Homo sapiens: one gene and its partners. The protein of the gene in region 3 interacts with the protein of the main gene of each other region in a pairwise test. Each region holds a gene or a part of one and is shown on either strand. Other genes may lie near its edges. The genes, in order: WFS1, HTT, ZNF444, LMNA, GFAP, YWHAG and PRKCA.

Region 1 (3,500 bases), on a different chromosome or scaffold from region 3:
GCAAGCCCCCAGCCCGCCCAGGCTGCATCCAGCCCGTGCTCCTTCCACATCTCCTGTACCTGGCTGTCCCATGGTCACCTCACAGCTCAGTCTACAGTGAGCTACTGAGGCCTGTGCTACCTGCCACTTGTGTGGGCCCCCCCAAGGCTGCCTCATCTCTTTGCTGCAGCTACACCTGGGTGCTGCCCCGACTCCTCTCCTCTTGCACACACAGCTGATCCATTAGGAGGTCTGTCAGCGCCCACTATCACGGCTGCCATCTTGGATGCAGCCTGCCTCCTCCCTAGGGTTTCTGCAGCACCCTGGCTTGTCTCCCTCTGCCCTGCCCCAGCATGGTCCTTTCTTTCCCATCCTTCCCCTGGAGGCCCTCCTGGTCACCATCTCACCACGGCAACTGGGGTCCTTCAGGGGCCTCATTCCCTCCTAGGGGATCATGTTGGATAGAGGGGTCAGTGGGCACGTAGCTCTCGCGGATCACGTTGGATGGAGGGATCAGTGGGCACGTAGCAGGCTCTTGGTGGAAGATGTTGGATGGAGGGGTAAGTCGGCCCATGGCAGGACGCATGTTGAATGGACGGGTTAGCAGGCATGTAGTAGGCCCATGGCAGACACTTGTTGGATGGAGGTGTCAGCAGGCACATAGTAGGTGTGTGGCAGATCATGTTGGATGGAGCGGTTTAGCAGGTGCACAGTAGGCCCTGGGTGGATCACGTTGAATGGAGGGGTTGGGGGCGCAGATCATGTTCGATGGAGCGGTTGGCAGGGTACTGCCCTACAGGGCGGCTTGTCACCCGTGCTGTGAGAAGCCCCACGCTGGCTGAAGAGGAGGGTGTCAGCATGCACTGGAGGTGCATGTTGTAAGGCTTGGCAGGTGAACTGGGTGAAAGGTGTGGGTGAGTGGCCCCAGGCATAAGGAGCTAGGCAGAGAGGGACACTTGGGGTGGGGGACAGCACACCCAGGGGCCGGGGGCCAGGAGTGGAGGCTGGCACTTGGCAAACCTGCCCCCTTCCTCCTCACCCAGCCTGGTCCTCAACCCTCAGGCCGCCCAGGGAAGGGTTTCCTCCACCTGAACCCACTCAGCTCCTTTCTTAGCTTGGCCCCACGCCACCGTCCCCAGCCCATTGCTCTGTGTGAGGGTGGCAGTGGGGCTGCAGTGTGGGGCGCCCATGCTGTTTTCTCTCATGCTTCAGCCAAGAACTACATCGCGCTGGATGACTTTGTGGAGATCACTAAGAAGTACGCCAAGGGCGTCATCCCCAGCAGCCTGTTCCTGCAGGACGACGAAGATGATGACGAGCTGGCGGGGAAGAGCCCTGAGGACCTGCCACTGCGTCTGAAGGTGAGTGACCAAGACCCCGGTCAGGCCGGAGCCTGCCTCCCAAGGACTCGCGCACCTCAGGCAGGGCACCTTCCAGGAAGCTGCAGGTGGGGAGGTTCGCGCCTAACAAAGAGTGTCTTACAGCCGTGCCGCTGGTACCTTTGGGTCATCATCTATCGTCATAAGGATGTGTCCTCGGGAGAGAGGCCTTTCTTTTCTGCGCCGTCAGGCTCAGAAACCAGGGGCGGTGTTGGGCAGGAGTGCTAGGATGGCAAGCAAGGGGCCCCTGGGTCTTTCTGTGCAGTGTAGGGGGCAGTGGGGCGGGCTGGACGCAGACTTTCATCTAGACTTCATCACTTAGCAGATTTCTCCATGTATGGTCCAGAGTGGAGGCCAGTGCCTTGAAGATGCCTTCCCCGAAAACAAAGTGCCGTGTCCGTCAGGCCAGGGAGGACGTGCAGAGGCGCCTACTGCCCCTGGATCTGCAAGGGCTCAGGGAGCGAGGCCAGTGTGGGAGCGTGGTGGGTGACACTTGTGCAGGGTGCCATTGGGCACACCTGGAGGACATGAGCAGCTTTGGCGGCAGGAGGAAAGCGGGGAGCGGGGAGCGGGAAGCCCAGCAGTGCGGGCCCTACTCCTGGCCTGACAGCTTGTTTTCTTGGCCATGTGGCCCTATGGCCTCTCACAGAGTTGCTCACAGTTCAGCTCGCATGGTTGAATTAGATGTGTGCCTGTCTCACTCTGCAGAGAACACCAGGATTTCCAGAAGCTTGGCCTCCTGACCCAGGATCCCCAAGCTGAGGCCAGCACAGGGGGCCCCAGCAGATGATTGTCACAGAGGCTGCGGGCAGTATCATGCAGGCACCCTGGGGTTCTGTCTTCTGAACTGACTGAGAACCTGGAGGAACTGCCATCATTGTATTCAGATGGGCGCGTGAGTCAGGGCCAGGACCAGGAGATGGTTGGGCCACCAACTGTCAGGCAGGCAGCAGGCTGAAAGGTCACCGTCCTCGAGCCAGGGAGAAGGTCAGAGTAGGCCCGCCCTCCGGTGGGGGGGAAGAGCAGGAACCCAGGTGCTGCAGGAGCAGCTTCAGCCCAAAGAGCAGCAGGCACAGCAGCCCTGCTGCAGGGACTCGGAGCCAGACAGGTCTGAGTGTGAGCCCCCCGAGTGCCCAGAGCTGCGAGTCCTTTAGGGTGGCAGGTGGAAGGCTCTGCTCCTCCCACTTGGGACAGGCTGTATGTCCAGGGTATGACACCGACCGGTCTGCAGAGGTTCTGAGACATGGGCCAGGATGGCCAAGAACTTGAACCAAGGGAGCACATGGTTTTTACTGATGGTCTGCTCAGAGCTGGCCCTAGGCAAGCATATTCACAGATTGGGTGCCATCATCTCCTTACTAATGGGAGATGAGGAAGCTGGGGTGCTGGCATGGTTTTGGCAAAGACACTCCCGAAATGAGAGTGAGGGTCACAGGTGAACGGGTTAACTTGGAGAAGACCCTTGGGCCAGGCGGCCATGGCCCAGGTGTCCCAGTTTATGCCATCTGGTGTAAGTACTATTATAATAATGCCTCCTTGCATATGCGTCCTGTTCGGAAAATTATGTCACCTAGTTATGGATGGTGAGTCTAGTGTTGTGTAGCATCTGAAAATCCTATTTATTTATGTTACTTAATGACAGGGTCTCGTTCTGTTGCACAGGCTGGAGTGCAGTGGCACGGTCACAGCTCACTGCAGCCTCAACGTGCCAAACTCAAGTGATCCTCCCACCTCAGCCTCCCAAATAGCTGGACTACAGGCATGTGCCACCACACCCAGCTGATTTTTTTGAAAACATTTTGTAGCGATGGGGGTCTCACTATTGTTATCTACGCTGGTCTCAAACTCCTGGGTCAAGCGAGCCTCCCACTTTGGCCTCCCACACTGCTGGGATTCAGGCGTGAGACACTGTATCCAGCCTGAAAGTCCTTTTTAGAAGGGAGAGATTTAAGCTGTTTTGACAAGAAGTAAACAAGACTCTGTTTCCCTTTAGTTTTGGATGCTGTCAGAGCACTTCGATTCCTTTGCAGTTTGTCTTCTTAGAAGTCTCTTGTGAGGGAGGCAATGAATCGTCACAAGCGTCTCCCAGGGCTGAGAGCTGTCCCACCTTTTAGTAGCCTTTTGTAGAACAAGGAGAGGTCT
Region 2 (3,500 bases), on a different chromosome or scaffold from region 3:
CCGTCCTAGTAGGTCTGAGAAGAAGCCCTGCTTGGGCCATGGCTGCACCATACCCAAGAGGTGGCCCCCCCACTGCTCACAGGACCTGCCCACGGGTGAGGGACAGGGACACCAAGGCTTTGCATGGCCTCCTAGCTCTGCGCAGGGTGCCCTCTGACATCTGGGGTTGGGGGGTGAAGAACCTCACTACATCTAACAGAGGTGTGAGTAGAGGAAATCTCGCTGCATCCAAGGGTCTCTTTTACGACTAAAGATCAACTTCCAAGACACTAGAAACAAGTTATTGACGTCACGCATTACGACACTGTGTTGAAGTCTACGGCAAATACGCAACCTTGACTTCCATTCTGTCTTGGCCATGGAGCTTAGATGATAACATCCTGTGTTTGTTCCTCCAGTGGAGGCCAGATAGTTCTCATCCCAAACCATACACCCAGCCTTGGGGCCAGCTGGATTTCAAAACAACACCTCCGTGGATTCTAATGTGGCTGAAACAATGTGCTTTTCTGTCTCGATCAGCATAACCCCCATGTCCCGACCCCATCTGAAATGGAGTCCTCCCCACTTCCCGGCCCCATTCAGAGTGGAGTCTCTCCGACATCCCGTCCCTGCCCAGACTGGAGTCCCCAACATGTGTTGTCAACAAGTGGGTCACATGATGATGAGACAAATCCCACTTGGAAGTCACAAGAAAAGCTGAGGATTCCTTGCCTCCACTGCTCCCCCCGTACCGAGTTCATCATGAAGGCATTCATATCTTCAGCAGGAATCCGATTCACCAGCTCTGCACCTTCCAGCAGTGCAGAATCTGACCTGGTCCAACACTGGGATTTGACAAGATGAACGTACCAGTCCTGGGAAGAAAAAAATGGATAAGGGGAACATGATGGGCGGCGTTCAAGGGGACTTCACATCCCTGGAGCTACAGGCCTAGGCCAGTGCTTGGGAACACCGCACTAGGCTGAGAGGGCTGCCGGCCGGCAGGCTGTGGCTATACGGCTCACCACACCACAGGTTTTCCCCTTTGGACTTCTGTTACCTGCCTGGGCACCCTCACAGCCTCCCCCTTCACCTGGTGAACTTCCAATAGGCCTTCCAAATATAGCTAAACCACTAAGGGTTAGCGGCCCCTTTGCCATCCTCTCCTGGGTTGTCTGCTTTACTCATCTCTCCCCAGCAACCAGGGCAGGGCAGGTGCTTAGCGAATAGAGCCTAAGAAGGCAGGACTGAACCTTCGCTTTCTTATACTTGGGCTGCTGGTTTTTGAAATCTAAATTCATATTCATAAGCTGAACTTTGTCCAGGAAAGTAGAGTACCAAGGCTCTACCAAGGCTCTACCAAGGCTCCAGGTGGTCCCTAACCATGAGGTATGAGCAGTGGAGGTGCTGACAACATACCAGAATGGCTGGCAGTGGCAGTGCAACTCACAGGTGGCCAGAAGGTATGAGGAGATGGAGGGAGGCTAACGGCATTGACATGTGCTTGAAGGCCTGTGCAGTCAGGGGCCTGCAGGCCACGGCCGACTATTCCTTGATTCACCCACTAACTACTCACCCCACACTCCTACCAAAAGGGTCCCACATCAGCACTGCTTGGCTCCCTCAGACCTTGATGGCCCCCCACGTCTCTAACCACAGCTTCACTGAGCCGAGCCGAGCGCCAGAACTCCTTGGGTCCACGGCACCTCCTCTGCACTCTCTGTATCTGCCACAGGTGACAGAGGCACTCAGCGCCCTGTGCCTCCCATGCAGACACGCTGGACACTTACTTTGTCCGGACTCACTGTTTCCAGTGACACGTGCCCATCCCCGTCCAGCGGGTGGGAAGAGACTGGAGGAGAGGGACTAAGTGAGTCTTGCATGGTGGAGAGACGAAACCTGTCCAGCAGGGAATAGAGCCTTTGGTGTCTAAAATACAAATAAAAATGAAATTACAGTATAATTTGTTTTTTTTTTTTTTTAGTCTTAGTCTAAACTCTGCACACTAGGATTCTAGAAATATACACTCTAAGGAGATGCACTATTAGTGGCTTCTTAAAGGAAAATACACTTGTTTAAACCTTTTTCTTCACAGCTATCTTCTCATCAATACTCAAACAGGTCATGATACAAATGCAGGCCCTAGTTTACTTTTAAGTATCACAGTTTGTACTCCATTAATATTTTCCAGAAATTTCATTTATACTCAAACACTGCAACAGGCAATACACAGTATAAAAGCTAATAAAGGCTTTCTTAATAAATGTAAAACAGATCATCTAAGACTCAAATGCACAAATTCCACTATCAAATATCCCAGTAAGACAACTGATAGGAATTCATGGTCATTTCAAAATAAAATCACCTCATCTGGCACAAGATATTTATAATCTTTTAATCTCCCTCATCTGGACTGAAGACTAAGTCTAGGGTCAAAAAGTAATAATAGTTTATCTCCCGCCATCTGCTATGAGAGTGACAACTTCATAATGCAAATTACAAAAGAGCTTGGCCCTACAGACTGAAAAATCATCCCAAACTGTCCACCTAATTGTGCCCAATCCCATTTAAAAACACCATCAACAAGGTACTCTAAAGACTGAAAAGCATAATAGACAAGGTACTCTAAAGACTGAAAAGCATAATAATTTTTGTGTGTTTTTCCTTTTTTGCAGTTTCAGCTCAAAGTACACAGCATGATAATTATATTCTCCTTCTCTGCTGTCTCTCTCTCCCTCTCACACACACAATCCCTGCCCCCCACCCCGCCCCGCAAGGGAAGGAAAAAGGTAAAAGTTTAACTTATTCTGCAGTCATGGAAATACACTCACATAGGAGATGTAGGGATTTCTGACAAAGGCTTCTCAAAGACTTTGCAAACACAACTAAATGATTAAATGCTTTGAAGACATAAAATGGCAACAGGATGCAGATGTAAGTCCTGCATGCCAAGGATTGAGTAATGTCTCTCAGATTTGCCAACTCTTGTTTAGCAATTAGATGACATGCTTTGATTTTGCTAAGATAAACCTGATAACCTATTTTCCCACTCATCACAGGACAGTGAATACAGGCATTCTAAATGCTACCTCTCAAACAGCCACCAGGAGTGCAAACTGCCTCCACTCACGTCACAGACGTGATCCTGCCGGTCATCCTTTACTCTTTAGAAAGTGAGATCTGGTTGTTTTAAAAGTAGGAAGGTTCTATTATGGCACTTCTGCAGTAAACCCACCTATAAGGCACATCGATTTCTTGTCCTGTGAATTTATTCCCGTACAAATCTATATCCTTTATATCCTGGGTTGTCCTAACACAAGGACGACCTGTGTTTCCAGCATTACCTCTGAGCGAGCCCGCTGCTCTGAAGGTATTCCTGGATTCTGTTGAGTTCTTCCATTGGCAACTGGGCCATGCTGCTCTAATAGACAAAAACACATTAGTGTGTTTGTAACACCTAACAACCCAAAATAACCTCATGCTCATTTAAAAAGGATGAACTGATGTGTACAGTTCATCCT
Region 3 (3,500 bases):
CGACAGAGAGAGACCCTGTCTTAAAAAAAAGAAAAAAGAAAAAAAGGGATCCATTGTGGCTGGAGTATAGAGAATCTGGGAGCAGGCAGAGATGAGAAAGTAGGGCTGGGCTGCATGGTCTCATGGCCATAGTAAGCAATTTGGGTTTTGAGCATCACAGGAAGCAGTTGGAGGGCACTGAGCAAGGAAGTGACAGGGATTTACAGTGAAAAAGTTTTTGTGATCACTGTGGAGTGATTTGGCTCTAGGTGGCGAGAGTAGGCATACACGGGTCTTGTGGCAGCCGTCCCAGCAATGAGATGACGTTTGTGGTTAGTGACATGGCGGTCAGGAGCCCAGGCTTTGGTTGTATCAGGAGGAAAATTGTCTGAACACAGACTTCCTCTCAGACCTCACCGGCTAGAAGCAGATTATGTGCCCACCCTCTGCCTTGTGGTCAAGGGGACTTTGCTATATAGTTCCTTATGATACAGTCCAAGCTGCTGTAATGAAGAGACCCCAAGTACAGGGCTCCACATAGGACAGAACTGATTCTTTTCTCCCATAATACTCCAGAGGTGTTCTGGGGCGGGCTGGCGCCTGAGCCCCATGGGGTCATCAGGGTCCCTTCTGTCTTGATCTTCCAGTGTCCTTGAGGTCAGGGGCCGGCAGTCTTGTCCTGTAAAGAGCCAGCGAGTGACTATCTTTGGCTCTGTGGACAGCCTTACAGGCCACCCAGGCCCTGTCACAGCCACTCGGTAGCTCCAAGGCGGCCGTGGACAGCGCGTGAGCAAGTGGGCGTGGATGTGCGCCAGTGAGACTTAAGTAAAACAGGCTGCAGGCCAGATTCGGCCCACCAGCTCAGAGACCACCATTTCTCAAATGCTTTGAAGTCAGGACTCCTTTCTGCCTTCAAAATTACTGAAGACCCTAACATGCTTTTATTGATGGGAGTCATATCTATTGTTACGTATCATAGTAGAAACCAAAACAGAAAATTGTAAAGTATTTATTAATGCATTTAAAAATGGCAATCACGGCTGGGCGTGGTGGCTCATGCCGGTAATCCCAGCACTTTCGGAGGCCAAGGCAGGTGGATCACCTGAGGTCAGGAGTTTGAGACCAGTCTGGCCAACCTGGCGAAACCCCGTCTCTACTAAAAATACAAAAATTATCCGGACGTGGTAACGCACGTCTATAATCCCAGCTACTTGGGAGGATGAGGCAGGAGAATCGCTTGACCCTGGGAGGCGGAGGTTGCAGTGAACCAAGATCGCACCATTGCACTCCATCCTGGGCAACAGAGCGAGACTCCATCTCAAAACAAAAATTAAAAAAAAAAATAGAGACAGGAGAGCTCGCTGCCTCTCTCTATTCTACGCCATGGGAGGACACAAAAGGAGGCCGTCGGCAGCCTGGAAGAGGTGCTCACCAGAACCCGACAGTGCTGGCACCCAGATCGCAAATTCCCAGCGGAAGGGACTGGGACAGGCCGTCATAGCTGTCATAGCGGAGCACCGTGGACTGAACTGCTATGAGCTTATTTCTCAGTTCTGGGAGCGGGAAGCTCAGAATGCCATCATGGTCAGTTCCTGGTGAGGGCCTCTGCCAGGCTGCAGGTGGCCTCCTTGCTGTGTGCTCCTGCTGGCAGAGATGGACAGAGTCCCGGTGTCCCTTTCTCTTATAAGGCCACAGCCCTATTAGGCCCAGCCCTTGTGACCTCAGTTAACTTTCATTACCAGTTAAAAGCTTCGTCTCCAAATACGGTCACACTGGGGTGAGAGCTTCCACATGTGAATTTTGGGAGACAAATTCAGGCCACAGCAGTTAGTTGGGGTGGCTTCTGAGTAGGCTGCAAAGTGTCTGCTCCCAGGGTGTGGGGTGCACGGCCCCACAAGTCCAGTGAGGGTGGTGCTGATGGTGACCTGCTGCTGCCAGGCCTGCTGCAAGCTCTTTCTGTGTTTTCTGGTTGAATCCTCAGGACAGGCTGCGGGAGGAGCTGCAGGACTGAGGTACAGAGGCCAGGGGCCCAGGGCAGGACCCAGCCTGGACTTGACTCCCTGGGATCCCAGGAAGGGCACACCCTTTCCTCACCACCCGAGTGAGCGCTGCCCCCTCACAGAGACCTCTTTGCCCCCTGGGCCAGGCAGAGCAGGTGAGTGCTTTATCTTACAGGGGAAACCGAGGCACAGAGGCCGGGCCTATCCTGGGTATGTGGGCGGCTCAGAAGCGCGGGTCCCAGGCCGGGTGCAGTGGCTCACGCCTGTAATTCCCAGCACTTTGGGAGGCCGAGGTGGGCGGATCACCTGGGGTCAGGAGTTTGAGATCAGCCTGGCCAACATGGTGAAACCCCATCTCTACTAAAAATATAAAAATTAGCAGGCGTGGTGGCGGATGCCTGTAATTCCCGCTACTCAGGAAGCCAAGGCAGGAGAATCGCCTGAACCCGGGAGCTGAGGTTGCAGTAAGCTGAGATCCGCCACTGCACTCCAACCTGGGGGAAAGAGCGAAACTCCGTCTCAAAAAATAAAAAGTAAAAAAAAAGAGCGTTGGTCCCATTGTGAGTCTGGGCACCGCGGGCAGGGTCTCGGCGGGCAGGGGTCTCACCGGCTTGTTCCCTGCAGGCGCTGCGGTCCGGGAGGCCCCATGGAGGTGGCGGTGCCCGTGAAGCAGGAGGCCGAGGGCCTGGCGCTGGACTCCCCGTGGCACCGCTTCCGCCGCTTCCACCTGGGCGACGCGCCGGGCCCGCGGGAGGCGCTGGGGCTGCTCCGCGCCCTGTGCCGGGACTGGCTGCGGCCCGAGGTGCACACCAAGGAGCAGATGTTGGAGCTGCTGGTGCTGGAACAGTTCCTGAGCGCGCTGCCCGCCGACACGCAGGCCTGGGTGTGCAGCCGGCAGCCGCAGAGCGGGGAGGAGGCGGTGGCCCTGCTGGAGGAGCTCTGGGTGAGCCTGGCGGGACTGCAAGCGGGGAAGGGAGAGGGGAAGGTGCCAGGGAAGCCACCAGGAAGCCCAGGGAGGAGCACCACTGAACCCCTGAAAACCAGTGTGACTCGCGGTGGGGAGGCTGCGGTACAGGCTGCGGTACAGCGTGGAGGGACAGTCCACGTGCGGCACCCTCCATCCCCACACCAGCTGCAAGTCAGGAGGGCCCCAAGACCCTGGCATACTTGCGAGTTCTCTAGGACTCACAGCCGTGTTCACGGTCACGGCTTATCAGAGAAGGACGTGCTGGAAGCAGCTGGGAAGAAGGCCACGAAGGCTCCAGGGAGCGCAGTTACCAGCTGTCCTCTCCCCGCACCCCGCCCGCACGCAGGGGGTCTTGCCGGCCAGGAATTCTCCTCAGACCGTGGTGTCCTGGGTTCTTACTGGGGACTCCTCCCCGTTCTGTGTGGCTGACCTCAGCCTCCCGCCCCCTGAAAGTCAAGGATACCCCCTGGTCCAAACTCTACCCCAAATTCATCTTGCTTTTGGGCTGGCCTGAGTCCCCCGGGGCAGGCAGACCCTCCTTATCATGCGTGAGG
Region 4 (3,500 bases), on a different chromosome or scaffold from region 3:
AGCAGTGGTTACTTTGCCGGGTTGGGGGGGAGGTAGGGGCTATCAAACCTCATGATTGGCCGCACACAAAGGTGTGAGTATGTGTATATTTGAGGGTGGGTGGGAGTGGCACTTTCACTAGGCCTCCGTATCACTCTCTGACTGGGGTATCTCCCAGCAAGCGAGACAGAGGCAGACACGCTTCCCAGACTGTCTTACTGGGTCTCTCTGTGTTATTCTCTGCAGTGTCTGTGTGTATCGTGCCATTTTCTATGTTTTGCACCAATCTGCTGTGAGTGTCCTCAGGTGACCTGGGGGCAGGTTTTTAGTGCCTGAGCCTACCCGTCTCCAGGCTTTAGTTTCCCCCTGTAAAAGTATAGGAGTTGGTTCAAGAGAAGGTTCCTCTAGAAGCCTTGAGCCTGTGAACCGTCTAGTCTCCGGGTATTTGTGGGACACACAGAAAAAGCCCCACGACCCAACAGGTAGAACACTGGCTGAAATCAGCAGGGCAGAGCTGAGACAGGCTCAAGTAGGCTGAGGGGTAGGGAGGTTTTGGGTGAATGGGAGGGAGGGACAGAGAGAAGGAGGATATATTGCAGTAGGAGGAGTTGCTGGAACAAAAGGAGGGGTGGTAGGAGTGGCTTGGGGTGGCAGCAGAAGACGCCCTGTCACATGGCGGGAAGTCAGCCTGGGCAGAGGTCTAGGTGTCCAGGAGGGGCTGGGTGTGGTGGCTCACGCCTGTAATCCCAGGACTTTGGGAGGCTGATGCAGGAGGATCACGTGAGGTCAGGAGTTCAAGACCAGCCTGGCCAACATGGCGAAACCCTATCTCTACTAAAAATGCCAAAAATTAGCTGGGTGTGGTGGCAGGCGCCTGTAATCCCAGCTACTCTGGAGGCTGAGGCACAAGAATTGCTTGAACCTGGGAGGTGGAGGTTGCAGGGAGCCGAGATCGCGCCACTCTACTCTAGCCTGGGCAACACAGTGAGACTCTGTCTCAAAAATAATAATAATAGGGGCTGGGCGCGGTGGCTCATGACTGTAATCCCAGCATTTTGGGAGGTGGAGGCGGGTGGATCACCTGAGGTCAGGAGTCCGAGACCAGCCTGGCCAACATGGCAAAACTCCGTCTCTACTAAAAATAGAAAAATTAGCTAGGCATGGTGGTGCAGGCCTGTAATCCAGCTACTCGGGAGGCTGAGAAGCAGGAGAATCACTTGAACCTGGGAGGTGAAGGTTGCAGTGAGATCACCTGGGCGACAGAATGAGACTCCACCTCAAAATAATAATAATAGTAATAATAATAAATGAAAAATTTTAAAATTAAACAATTAAAAATTTTAAATTAAAATTAAACAAATTAGATGCCCAGGAGGATACAGGAGAGCATTTGCCACCAGGCGGACTCCCTGTACCCACCCGGCCACAGGGGGCGATGTTCCTGGGAGACAGGAAATGCCCAGGGGCTGGGAGACCCTCTGCTCTTCTGCTCCCTTCCTGTGTGCTGCCTGGCAATGGGGAACTCTGAGGGCTGGTGAGCAGGGCTGCTGAGGAGTGGGTCTAAGGAGTCCCTGCAGGGCTGGGCCAGCTCCTCCACCTCCCCTTTGTCTTCCCCTCCCACTTGTTATTTTTAGCTACAGTGTCTGTCCCTCTTGCTTCTCCCCCAGATTGGGAGAGGAAACGGAGGCCTCTCCCTCCGGGCCTAGCCTGTTGCCCCCAGCAACCGGGCCCAAACAGGCCTGTGGCCGGCCCTGGCTTCCATATCTGGCATCAGAGTTGGGCTGAGCAGGGTGACTCAGAGGGTGGGTCAGCGCCTGGCCCGGTGCCCACCTAGCCCCTTTGCTGTGCTGGTGCCTTTCTTCCCCAAACAGCCCCAAGGGCCCGGGCCTGCTGCAGCTGGGGAGCCGGACTTCCTTGTCCCACCAGGCACAGCTCTTCAGACCCCTGCCTTGGGTCACATTTGCAAGTGCCAACTCTCATTTCTACCTTATTCTTTTCCTCTCTGTTCCCCTCCCCACCCCCTCTCTTCCCTCTTTCTGAGATCAGATTTGCCAGTGATGGGAAGAGTTAGAAACAGGATGCCCAGCCCTTCTCGCCTCAAGAGGCCACTGGGATGCAGCCACTCCTGTGCTTGGGGAACCTGGAGGATGCAAGGGAAAGGACTGGCACTCTGCTGGCACAGCACCCGGCCTGGGGCAGGACACGGGCGAAGCCAGGGTCTCCCCTGTGAGCACTAGAGGATTTCCCGACCCCTGCCCGGGTATTGTGTGCCTGAGCATGAGTCACCTGAGGGGCCCAGGTTCCCACCCTTCCCAGCTCCTCTGGCCTGCCCCACCCTGTCCTCCCTGCCAACCCAGCACGGGGACGGCACTCAGCGTGTGCTCAGCTTTCCTGATGCCAACCCCCAGTGGAGTGGGCTGCACCACCACCCTGGGACCGAATGCCTGGCTAGGGTCTACTTTGGTCCCTGCTAGGTCTGAGGACCCCTCCTAGGAAGGAAATGGCACTTGGGGGCGGGGGCAGGGAGGAGGGAGGAGAGACACTGGGCTCTACTGTACCCCTAGTCATCTCTTGGGGTGTGCGTGTGGCTCCCTGGCCACAGAGCTCCCAAGGTCTGAGTCATGAGCCCATGGGTGATAGTGGCTTCTTCCCCGCAGATGGGAGCTCCCCGTGCCTAAGAAAACCACAAAGGTTCTTCCTCACTTCCCTCTCTGCTCGTGGTTTTTCTCATCTGCAGGGTGTGTCTTAGTCCTTTAATCTCCTCTCTTTGCAGTGCTAGTCAAAACCTCCACCAGGGAAAGACAAATAACCCCCTTACTGTTTTTTTTTTTTTTTTTTTTTTTTTTTGAGATGGAGTCTCGCTCTGTCACCCATGCTGTAGTGCAGTGGCACAATCTCGGCTCACTGCAACCTCCGCCTCCCAAGTTCAAGTGATCCTCCTACCTCAGCCTCCTCAGTAGCTGGGACTACAGGTGCACACCACCGTACCCAGCTAAATTTTTTTTTTTTTTTTTTGAGATAGAGTCTCACTCTGTCACCCAGGCTGGAGTACAGTGGTACAATCTCAACTCACTACAATCTCCGCCTCCCAGGCTCAAGCAATTCTCGTGTCTCAGCCTCCCAAGTTGCTGGGACTATGGACGTGCACCACCTTGCCCGACTAATTTTTGTATTTTTGATAGAGTCAGAGTTTCACCATGTTGGCAGGCTGGTCTCGAACTCCTGGCCTCAAGTGATCCACCTGCCTTGGCCTCCCAAAGTGCTGGGATTACAGGTGTGAGCCACCACACTCAGCCAGCCCCCTTACTTTCCTTGGAGACCATATACTGTGGCTTGTGCCAAAGTGGTACAGCATGGATTTCCAGCTCCCCTATCTACTTGCTGCGGGACCCTAGATATAGCTTTCTGTGCCTATTTCCTCAATTGCATAGGAATAGCACCTATCGCATAGGGTAGCTGTGAAGATGACGTGAGTTAACATAATATTTAGAGCAGTGCTTGGTACCTAATAAGCTCTATAT
Region 5 (2,842 bases), on a different chromosome or scaffold from region 3:
TGCAAGGGCTTGTTTCAGAAGCTGCAAGCCATGGGCAACCCCAGATCCGTGAAGGAGGGGCTCAGCTGGGAGGAGCAGGGTCTGGAGGAGCAGTCTGGTGGGCTCCAGGAGGAGGAGAGGCTCCTGCAGGAGCTGCTGGAGCTGTACCAGGTTGACTGATGCGGCAAGCTACCCTCAGAGGTCCCAGTGGTCACTGGAGGCAGTTTTTTGGTTGTTGTCTTGGGGGTTCTGCAGGACCATAATAAGAAACCCACACCTGGTTCCCTTCTCAACTTGGAATTTTCAGAGCAAAAACAGGAATCAAGTCTTCCCCACTTCTCCAGTCCCTCAGTGTCTCGCTGTTTTGAACTGTGTGTATCCATGGACAGTCAAGAGCTCAGGAAGTTGAGAGCGGTTTTGTTTCCCACCCTTAGAGTCTGCCAAGCCTCTAGCCCACTGGCCTTGAGAGATGAGTGTGTGCCCAACCAAATGCTGGCTATACCAGTTACAGCCTCCACTCATAAAAGGGAAAAAGCAAAATCTTTATGGTAAACAAACACTGATCTCCACAGCTCTTAACAAGAATGTTTATAGCCCCAAACCAATGAATGGACATGTAATCAACAAATGATCAAATACTACATCATTTGAGGTGTTGAATTTTCCCCTAGAGACTCAGTTCTTGTGCAGGTTGGGCCTGGGAAAGTCCCAAGCCATCAGCTCAGGTCCAGCCAGCCTCCCGGATGGCCAGATATGCAGGAGGGTGGGTTTCCTTCATCCCCCAGGTTGATGAAAGACTTTTCCACCAGGCTGGCAGGGCAGGGCCTGGAGCACTGAGGCAGAGATCTCCCTGCCCGAGCACCTCGGCCCGCCCTTCTCATTCCGGTTTCCTTTGACCCATTCTTGGGTGAGCGCCAGTGTTCTAGAAAGGGGAGTAAAGGCCAGGTTCTAGAATGGCTTTCCCCCCCCACCCTGAGATCAGGTCTGGAATGTTAGAAGGGCATCTTGTACATCCACTGGGAATAAATTGCCTTGCACTTGGCGGCTTCCTCTGCAGATTGTTGCTGCTTTTCCTGGCTGCATAATCCTTTCCTCATCTAGAGGCTTCCGCTTAGCAGAGCTTTCTAGGAGCCCTATGAGCCTTTAATGCCCTGGTTTTGCCCTGCCCCTCTGACCCCTGCCTCCTTCAGGTATGCACCTGGCCCTCACCACTGTGCTCCTGTGGGCATGGGGGCTCCAGGCCTTTGAAATTGTGGAGAAGGAAAACATTTTTCAGAGGACCCCCTGCCCTGCTTTCCTGATGTTTGAAAATGCAGCCTACCTGGCCGACATGAGCTTTGAGCTTCCCTGTCACTGCAAACCCGAAGAGGTGCCAGCTGTAGTCTGGTTCTACCAAAAGCACCTAGGTAGCAGCCACACCAAAGTGCTGACGGACTTTGATGGGCGGGTGCTGACGGAGGCAGCCCAGGTACGTGTGGGCAGCGACATGCTGACCCGCTTCAGCATCCGCATGTTCAGCTTGTTGGTTTTCAGGGCTCAGTCTGAGGACTCAGGCCTGTACTTCTGCGGCACCCGCAAGGGGGACTACTTTTACGCCTACGATGTGGACATCCAGAACAGTGAGGGAATGGTGGCCACTTTCCAGGACAAGGGCCAGGAGCCCTTTGCAGATGAATACTATGGGCACCTCCATGTCTTCACCACCTTCTGGGAATGGACCCCCTGTGACCGCTGCGGAGTGCGTGGGGAGCAGTGGCGCATCGGCCTCTGCTACCTGCAGAGCCCAGACCTCTCCCCACGCTACCTCAAGGCCGTGCCCGATGTGGTGTCTTGTGGCTCAAGGGCTGTGCCAAGGAAGCTGCGGACCAAGGCCAGGGACCACACGCCTGAGGTGCTGGTTCGGAGCTGCTTAGTACCCTGTGAGAAGACAAAGACCATCCGGGAGGGCGTGCTGGCCATCATTAACTATGTGTCCAAAGTGGGCAGCCGGCCCTGGGTGCCCCAGGTGCCCATTCAGTTCCACCAGCAGAGACTGGGCCATGGACTCATCATCTCCTGTCCTGGGGCCCGGCCAGAGCATGCAGTGGCCTGGGACAAAGACCGCCAGCACCTCTACCGCACACAGTACCTGAAGGGTGTCAACAGGTCCATGAGGGTGTTCATTGACCACGGCAACCAGCTCCACATCCGCTTCACCCAGCTGGATGACCGGGGCATCTACTATTGCTGGAGGCAGGGTGTGCTAGTTGCTGGCTTCCGGCTGGGTGTGACATCTCATGGGCACTACCCAGCCTCGTTCTCAGATCCTGAGACTCGCTCGGCTGTGGAGCTCACCCTGATAGGCTACCTGCTCATCACAGCAGTCTTTGTCACCATTCACTTCTGTCGTTGCTGCTGCTACTTATTTCACTGTTGTCCCAGCTTCTCCCCCTAGGAGCTCTCTTCAGCTCTGAAGACCAGTTGTCCTTCAATGTGTTTGTTAAATGATACCAGATGTCTCTGGGTGGGTACCCTGGGTTGGGACAGGTGGTAGGAACATGTGGACAAATCTGTTACAGCCTGCTCCCCATTTTCATGGGCAGGTCTGGGACCTGATCTGAGAAGTGGAGGGGCCTGAGGCTGGTGGGAGATTGGGGACTGAGCTCAGGATGGAAGTAGGGCACATGTGTTTCCTGACTTCACATTTAGGTCAGAGAAGGAAAGTGTGAACTCAGATTTATCCAGTGGTAAACACTGATCAGTGTTGAATCATGTTTGAGCTGCTTTGCTTTCTTGCCTATGAAGATTGTGCTGGTTGAGTTGCAGGTAGCAGGGAGAGGAAGGAAGAAAAGAGTGGAGGGAGCTGGTGTATGTCCTCTTTGGC
Region 6 (3,500 bases), on a different chromosome or scaffold from region 3:
AATGCAGCCCAACACAAATTCGTAAACTCTATTAAAACACTGAGAATTCTTTTTGCGATTTTTTTTTTTTTTTTAGCTCATCAACTATTGTTAGTGTTAGTGTATTTTATGTGTGGCCCAAGGGAATGTGGCCCAGGGAAGCCAAAAGACTGGACACCCCTGTACTAAACTCCTGGGGCATGGGGGAACTGAACTACCAGGAGACTTTTTTTTCTATGTTTGAATCATTATGTTCAGTATGTTGGCCCATGCCTGTAATCCCAGTGCTTTGAGACACCAGGTGGGGAGGACTGCTTGAGGCCAGGAGTTCAAGACCAGCCTGGCCAACATAACAAGGCCCCATCTCAAAAAAAAAAAAATTTTTTTTCTTAAATTATAAACGGGGGGTATGCTTGGCAAAAGTGATTACAGTCATTACTTCAAGCAGCATCTACTCAGAGATAATTAAATCAAAACATAAACCAAATCATGCTTATTAGTTTATGGCAGGCAATTCATTTTCTGAATGAATGATCAGCAAGTGCTACACGCTCAAATATTCTCTAAACTGATTAGTGGTGTTGTTAAAGTTAACATTTTCCTAGACATTACTGATGCTCTGTTTTAATGCTGGACAACGTTACTCCTACCAGCCGTGCCCTCAGTGAAACAGACTCAAAAGAGGGGAAGAATAGGGGGTGGGTACTACTTGAGTTCAGAGCAGAAGGAAACCAGGAAAGAGATGCTTTGCTCCACCACCTCTTGTTCCCGGCACTTCTGCAAACACTCCTCCTGCATGAATAAACACAGGCACCTCGTGTCTCATTCTGCACTGACGATCTGTCATCCAGCAGACCGCTGTCACTCATGCTGAATTCTGATGTGTCCACAAATAACGGAAGATTGGGCTTTTCCCAGCTCCATCATTCGCTAAGCAATCTTGGGGACAAGCCGCTTCATTTCTCTGGGCTTTGGTTTTCTTATCTGCAAAATGGGGATTTCTGCTTCTTTCATAAGGTAATATACAGGTATATCAGACAAATAAGAAAGTCTTTTTTTGTTCTTTTTGAGACATGGTCTTACTCTGTTTCCCAAGCTGAAGTGCAGAGGCATGATCACACCTCACTGCAGCCTCAAACTACTGGGCTCAAGCAATCCTCCCACCTCAATCTCCAGAGTACCTGGGACTACAGGTGTGCACCACCATGCATGGCTGATTTCTTTTTTTTTTTTTTTTGGAGACAGAGTTTCAAAAAGACCTGGTCTCACTCTGTTGCCCAGGCTGGAGTGCAATGGCATGATGTCGGCTCACTGCAACCTCCCCCCAAGTTCAAGCGATTCTCCTGCCTCAGCCTCCCGAGTAGCTGGGATTACAGGCGTGTGCCACCATGCCTGGCTAGTTTTTGTATTTTTAGTAGAGACAGCGTTTTGCCATGTTGGCCAGGATGGTCTCAAACTCCTGGCCTCAAGTGATCCACCCGCCTCAGTCTATGGCTGATTTATTTATTTCTTTATTTAGAGATGGGGTCTCACTATATCAATCCGCTGGAAGTGCAGTGGCACTATCTTGGCTCACTGCAACCTCAGCCTCCCAGGGCTTCAAGCAATCCTACCTTAGCCTCCTGAGTGGCTGGGACTAAGGCACATGCCACCACACCCAGCTAATTTTTGTATTTTTCTGTAGAGACAAGGTCTTGCCATGTTGCCCAGGCTGGCCTTGAACTCCTGGCCTCAAGTGATCCACCCACCTTAGCCTCCCAAAGTGTTAGGATTACAGGTGTGAGCCACTGCATCCAGCCATTTAAAAATTTTTAGTAGAGACAAGGTCTCACTATGTTGCCCAGGCTGGTCTTGAACCCTTAGTTCAAGTGATCCTCCCACCTTGGCCGCTCAGAGTGCTGGGATTACAGGTGACAGCCATTGTGCCCAGCAAAGTCTTCTTGAAAAAGTAAAATGCTACAGAAACATGAGGAACTACTTTTAAGAATACCCTGAATAATTTTCCTTCATTTTAGTTCTCACCACAGGGGATGTCTACATTTCCTAACGATCTCCCAGCTCATCTTCCTGTATCGAGTGTCTCTTCTCCGTTTCATCCTCTTCTCTATATTAAGCGGAAACTGCCTTAGCTGCCTCACATCGCTTCCTTTCCATAAACCCTAGTTCCATACAGCCTGAAAAAAAACTGCCCAGACTTGGCTTTGGAAGGAGCTGAGCCCTTGGGCGCTGCTGCCACCCATCTCTGGCATACTTTACTGAGTGTGCGAATGCTGAAGACAAACCGCCCCGCGGTGCAGCCCTCATGACTGCCTCCAGTGCAAGGAGAGGCCAGCGTGCCGAAGGCCACAAAGATCAAGTTCTGGCCTTTCCCCTAAATCATGTTGTCCTTATTTCAAGGGCCAGGAGCTATTTAAAGCTCAAATTATCTCACCAGTCCTGGGGGCACTCCTCCTGCCACAAATGAAGTCTCCCAGCAGTGCCCAGAGAGGCAATCTGTACTTATGTAAAGTCTGCCTAGCTGTCCCCAGACACATTGGAACAAGGAGATTATGAAATGCCAGGATCACCTTTGGATACAGTAGCTCGACCACATTTGGAACACGCCCAGATGTTCCCTGCCAGTGAAAAACTAAGTTAGAGGGGAAACCCTTCAGCTCTAAAAAGTCTAAAGAAAAGTTGTTCTGAACACCTTAAATCAAAATTTTTAAAAATCCTTTATCCTTTAGATCATAATTACTTGCATAAGAATCTGTTATTTTTAAATTAAAATAAGAGATCCCCACCATATTAGTTTTAAAGGTCAACAGATAACCTCTTAAAAGAACAAGTTATTCTAATAGTGTCTAAAATGATTTAATCAAGACAGAATGACAGAATGACTATTCAATGTGGGAAGATACGGGATCTTGTATCATTTGGGAAGGGAGGTAACATTTTTCAAAACAGTCATTAAATTTGTTGTTGTTGTTTAAACAGAGACAGGGTCTCACTCTGTTGCCCTGGCTGGAGTACAGTGGTGCAATCACAGCTCACTGCAGCCACGCCACAAACTCCTCTGCCTCAGCCTCCAGAGAAGCTGGGACTACAGGCATCTACCACCACGCCCCCTAATTTTTGTATTTTTTGTAGGGACCAGGGTCACCCTATGTTGTCCAGGCTGGTTTCGAACTCCTGAGCACAAGTGATCCTCCAGCCTTGGCCTCCTAAAGTTCTGGGATTACAAACATGAGCCATTCTGCCTAACCTTCTTCTTCTTTAAAAAAAAAAAGAAAGAAAGAAAGAAAAGAAAAGAAATGGGGTCTCACTCTGTTGCCCAGGCTGGAGAGAAATGGCGTGATCACAGCTCACTGCAGCCTCAACTTCTCAGGCTCAGGTGATCCTCCCACCTCAGCCTCCCATCACACCCTGGTTAATAAATTGTTTCTACGAATGCAACACTTGTAAACATGGTCCCCAAAATTTACTGTCATGGCTGTTGGAAAATGTAGAAAGTTTCAGTTTTTATTCCCCAGAGTTGTATG
Region 7 (3,500 bases), on a different chromosome or scaffold from region 3:
CTCAAACGATCCCCCTACGTTGGCCTCCTAAAGTGCTGGGACTACAGGTGTGAGCCACTGTGCCTGGCCTTAATTCAGCAAACATTTCCATGAAAGGTTTTCTTCATGCCTGGTACTGTGCTCAGACTTTGGGATACAAAAACAAACAAACAAAAAAACTCACAGTCTTGGCTTTTTTTTTTTGAGACGGAGTCACTCTCTCTTCCCCAGGCTGGAGTGCAATGGTGCGATCTCTGCTCAATGCAACCTCCACCTCCCAGGCTCAAGGGATTCTCCTGCCTCAGCCTCTCGAGTAGCTGGGATTACAGGCCGCTGCCACCACGCCCGGCTAATTTTTGTATTTTTAGTAGAGATGGGGTTTCACCATGTTGGCCAGGCCGGTCTTGAACTTCTGACCTCAGGTGATCCACCCGCCTCGGCCTCCCAAAGTGCTGGGATTACAGGCATGAGCCACCGCACCTGGCCACAGTCTTGGCTTTTTAAGACCACTGGTTCCACTGCCAAACATGGCATTGGAGCATAAGGAGACTTGATTTTGTAAAAGAGCATGTTCTTGTTCAATGCCACACAACAGGGACTGGCAAACTGTGGCCTATTCTCTATGGCTTGTGAGTTTAGGAAAGGTCACAACAAGGAAATCCAAAGAGTCATATATCGTGACACGTGAAAATTAGGTCAAATTTTAAATTTCAGCATCCATAAACAGCTGTTTTGGGACATCACCACACTCCTTCGTGTACCTGTCATCTACAGCTGCTTTTGCACCATGAAGGCAGAGTTGAGTTGCTGCAAGAGACACTCACAGCCTAAAATATTAATACATACTGTCTGGCCCTTTGTGGAAAAAGTTTGCTGAGCTCTGTCGTAAAGTAAAACTAAACAGAGGACAAAAAAGGACATTCCAAAGCACTAATCAGTCCGTTGCAGGGCTTGCAAGTGGCCTACAAGAAACAGACATGGCCGGGCGCGGTGGCTCACGCCTGTAATCCCAGCACTGTGGGAGGCCAAGGCGGGCAGATCACGAGATCAGGAGATCGAGACCATCCTGGCTAACACGGTGAAACCCCGTCTCTACTAAATATACAAAAAAAAAAAAAAAAATTAGCCGGGCGTGGTGGCGGGCGCCTGTAGTCCCAGCTACTCGGGAGGCTGAGGCAGGAGAATGGCGTGAACCCGGGAGGTGGAGCTTGCAGTGAGCCGAGATGGCGCCACTGCACTCCAGCCTGGGCAACAGAGCAAGACTCTGTCTTAAAAAGAAAAAAAAGAAACATAGATGTTTAGATGCCACCATAGTGAGACGTTGCCAAAGCTGGTCTTTCCACTCCTCAGAGGCTGCCCATTTAAAATATGACTCCATAATCAGTAGCTGTAATTGATGCGATTATTACTATTTTCAACTGCCCATTGATCAGAGATTGACTTTCTGTCTTATGCCTCTTTGAAAACTCTTGGGAGGAACCTCTCAGTGCTTTTGTGTTTTAGAATCTCAAAATGGCTTTGCAGCCACCCGGAGCCTCTGGGTGTGTAGCAGTGGCCGCGGAGTCAGGCGCCGGCCACTACGTGTCAGCCTAGCGCTGGCGGCACGTTGAGCTTCCTGCTCCCAGCCGTTCCCACTGACTCTGAATCAAGTCACGCCAGGGAGAGATGAGAGCAGCATGCTCGGAAGAGACAACCACAGCTCTGAATCCCAGCCCAGAGCCTGTAACCCTGGTTACCCTGATTAAGCTCTGGAAAGCTACAAAACAAAGAAATGAAGATGAAATTAAAGTTCATAACAGGAAAGCTAGAGACTGGGGCTCCCAGGGTTGCTTCCTGGCTATTAGCACCAGCTTCATCATTTTTTTCTCCCTGTGCAGCACTTTAATGTTTAATATCCTCTGTGAAATGGGGATGTTTTCTAGCAGAGAGCAGAGGTCATTATTTCACTGTTAAACCCCTCCATCTTCCTATCTGTCCCAGCATAATGTCCTCAGGAATATGCAGATTTATTTGGGTCTATGATACATGCCCATCATGGGGCCAACACTTAGCCTACCAGTGACAGAGAAAATAGAAAAACAGTGTTTGGGCATATTACAGATGCAAAAGAACATTTGATTAGCATCTCCATCTAGAGTCCCCTGTCCCATGTCCAGTAAATATATTGAGCATGTGTAATCCTAAGCCTGAGAGATGTGTTTTCAGGAGTATCCATTTAAACACGATACTACATTAGTATGGCACGCCTCCCAGACACTGCAAACCAGCCTTTAAACATTTGGACCATGGAGAAGCACTAGTTAAAATGAAATAATTGCCTTATGTGGATTCCTCACACCATCCCTTACTTAGAAATTTATTATATGTATAGGAAGATAGGGAAGAATGTTCAAGGCCGTTACTATAATAGCATATGTAACAGGAAGGCACGTTGATGGAGAGCCATTATTTCAGGGTTATGTAATGACTTTATACTTCCCAAGGCCCTCATGCAGTAGGGTTTATTACTTATTCTTTCTTTGGAAAAAAATGTGAAAGAGCTCTAAACTGAGCACATCTGCCCATGCAGTCCCCATTTAACTAATGAGAAAGCAAAACACAACCTGTGAAGAGCAAAGGAAGCCACTTGGCTGGGGAGGAGCCCTGCTCATGTGTTGAACCTTGGTCTGCAGGATCGGCTGTACTTCGTCATGGAATATGTCAACGGTGGGGACCTCATGTACCACATTCAGCAAGTAGGAAAATTTAAGGAACCACAAGCAGTGTGAGTATTATTTTTTAAGTCCTTTAATTTGAACAACCAAGTCCTACCAACTGGAAACTTCCTTTTTTCCCCCCCGCTTGAGATTGGGGGTCTCACTCTGTCACTCAGGCTTTGCCTCCCAGGCTCGGGTGATTCTCCCACCTCAGCCTCCTGAGTAGCTGGGACTACAGGCACACACCACCATGCCTGGCTAATTTTCTGTTTTTGGTAGAGATGGGGTTTCACCATCTTGCCCAGGCTGGTCCCGAACTCCTGAGCTCAAGCTGTCTGCCCACCTCGGCCTCCCAAAGTGCGGGGATTACAGGCGTGAGTGAGCCACCATGCCCAGCCCCAACTGGGAACTTCTGCTGGGTGAAATGGGAAAGTGGGATTCTGCCCAGTTTTAGGTTGAATGTTATAAACCTAAACATGGGAGGCGGAGGGCAGATATACTGGTAGGATCCATCTAAGATGGTTCCTAAGGAGCAGTTTATTCTATTTCCAGTATTTCCAATAAACTGGAGATGTTGCCATATCCCATCATCACCCAGGTCCACCCTTGTTGATGGAGTTATTCTTATCTGTTGAACAAATGGTTATCACACACCTGCTCTGCACCAGGCACTGGGGTTGCGAAAGGAACGAGGTGCTCCCTTTCCAGAGGGAGTTTACACTCCACCCTGGAGGTGGAGAAGTCACCTAACAATTAATAGTGCGTTGCTGTAACTTTAGAGACTTGCGCAGGATACCAGGATAACACGTAAGCCCCTAAAAATCG

The links.
Region 1: the proteins of ZNF444 (region 3) and WFS1 interact in binary tests that used the Homo sapiens proteins (3 or more experiments, as listed by UniProt).
Region 2: the proteins of ZNF444 (region 3) and HTT interact in binary tests that used the Homo sapiens proteins (3 or more experiments, as listed by UniProt).
Region 4: the proteins of ZNF444 (region 3) and LMNA interact in binary tests that used the Homo sapiens proteins (3 or more experiments, as listed by UniProt).
Region 5: the proteins of ZNF444 (region 3) and GFAP interact in binary tests that used the Homo sapiens proteins (3 or more experiments, as listed by UniProt).
Region 6: the proteins of ZNF444 (region 3) and YWHAG interact in binary tests that used the Homo sapiens proteins (3 or more experiments, as listed by UniProt).
Region 7: the proteins of ZNF444 (region 3) and PRKCA interact in binary tests that used the Homo sapiens proteins (3 or more experiments, as listed by UniProt).

What each region holds. Positions count from the first base shown.
Region 1 is NC_000004.12:6,293,850-6,297,349, forward strand, and holds part of WFS1 (wolframin), read left to right. Parts: intron 1-1,191; coding exon 1,192-1,340; intron 1,341-3,500. UniProt on the Homo sapiens protein: Participates in the regulation of cellular Ca(2+) homeostasis, at least partly, by modulating the filling state of the endoplasmic reticulum Ca(2+) store.
Region 2 is NC_000004.12:3,207,181-3,210,680, reverse strand, and holds part of HTT (huntingtin), read right to left. Parts: intron 3,401-3,500; coding exon 3,324-3,400; intron 1,909-3,323; coding exon 1,770-1,908; intron 855-1,769; coding exon 732-854; intron 1-731.
Region 3 is NC_000019.10:56,144,287-56,147,786, forward strand, and holds part of ZNF444 (zinc finger protein 444), read left to right. Parts: exon of another isoform or gene 1-1,563; intron 1,564-1,960; 5' UTR 1,961-2,134; intron 2,135-2,603; 5' UTR 2,604-2,625; coding exon 2,626-2,922; intron 2,923-3,500. UniProt on the Homo sapiens protein: Transcriptional regulator. Binds to the 5'-flanking critical region of the SCARF1 promoter.
Region 4 is NC_000001.11:156,124,711-156,128,210, forward strand, and holds part of LMNA (lamin), read left to right. Parts: intron 1-1,459; exon of another isoform or gene 1,460-1,493; coding exon of another isoform or gene 1,494-1,513; intron 1,514-1,844; exon of another isoform or gene 1,845-1,941; intron 1,942-2,025; exon of another isoform or gene 2,026-2,092; coding exon of another isoform or gene 2,093-2,205; exon of another isoform or gene 2,206-2,239; intron 2,240-3,500.
Region 5 is NC_000017.11:44,902,659-44,905,500, forward strand, and holds the end of GFAP (glial fibrillary acidic protein), read right to left. Parts: 3' UTR 2,414-2,842; coding exon of another isoform or gene 1,172-2,413; 3' UTR 501-1,171; downstream 1-500. Other genes in the region: DNAAF19 (dynein axonemal assembly factor 19), read left to right, coding at 1-159; Ig-like V-type domain-containing protein FAM187A precursor, read left to right, coding at 1,172-2,413.
Region 6 is NC_000007.14:76,331,492-76,334,991, forward strand, and holds part of YWHAG (14-3-3 protein gamma), read right to left. Parts: intron 1-3,500. UniProt on the Homo sapiens protein: Adapter protein implicated in the regulation of a large spectrum of both general and specialized signaling pathways. Binds to a large number of partners, usually by recognition of a phosphoserine or phosphothreonine motif.
Region 7 is NC_000017.11:66,736,113-66,739,612, forward strand, and holds part of PRKCA (protein kinase C alpha type), read left to right. Parts: intron 1-2,651; coding exon 2,652-2,743; intron 2,744-3,500. UniProt on the Homo sapiens protein: Calcium-activated, phospholipid- and diacylglycerol (DAG)-dependent serine/threonine-protein kinase that is involved in positive and negative regulation of cell proliferation, apoptosis, differentiation, migration and adhesion, tumorigenesis, cardiac hypertrophy, angiogenesis, platelet function and inflammation, by directly phosphorylating targets such as RAF1, BCL2, CSPG4, TNNT2/CTNT, or activating signaling cascade involving MAPK1/3 (ERK1/2) and RAP1GAP.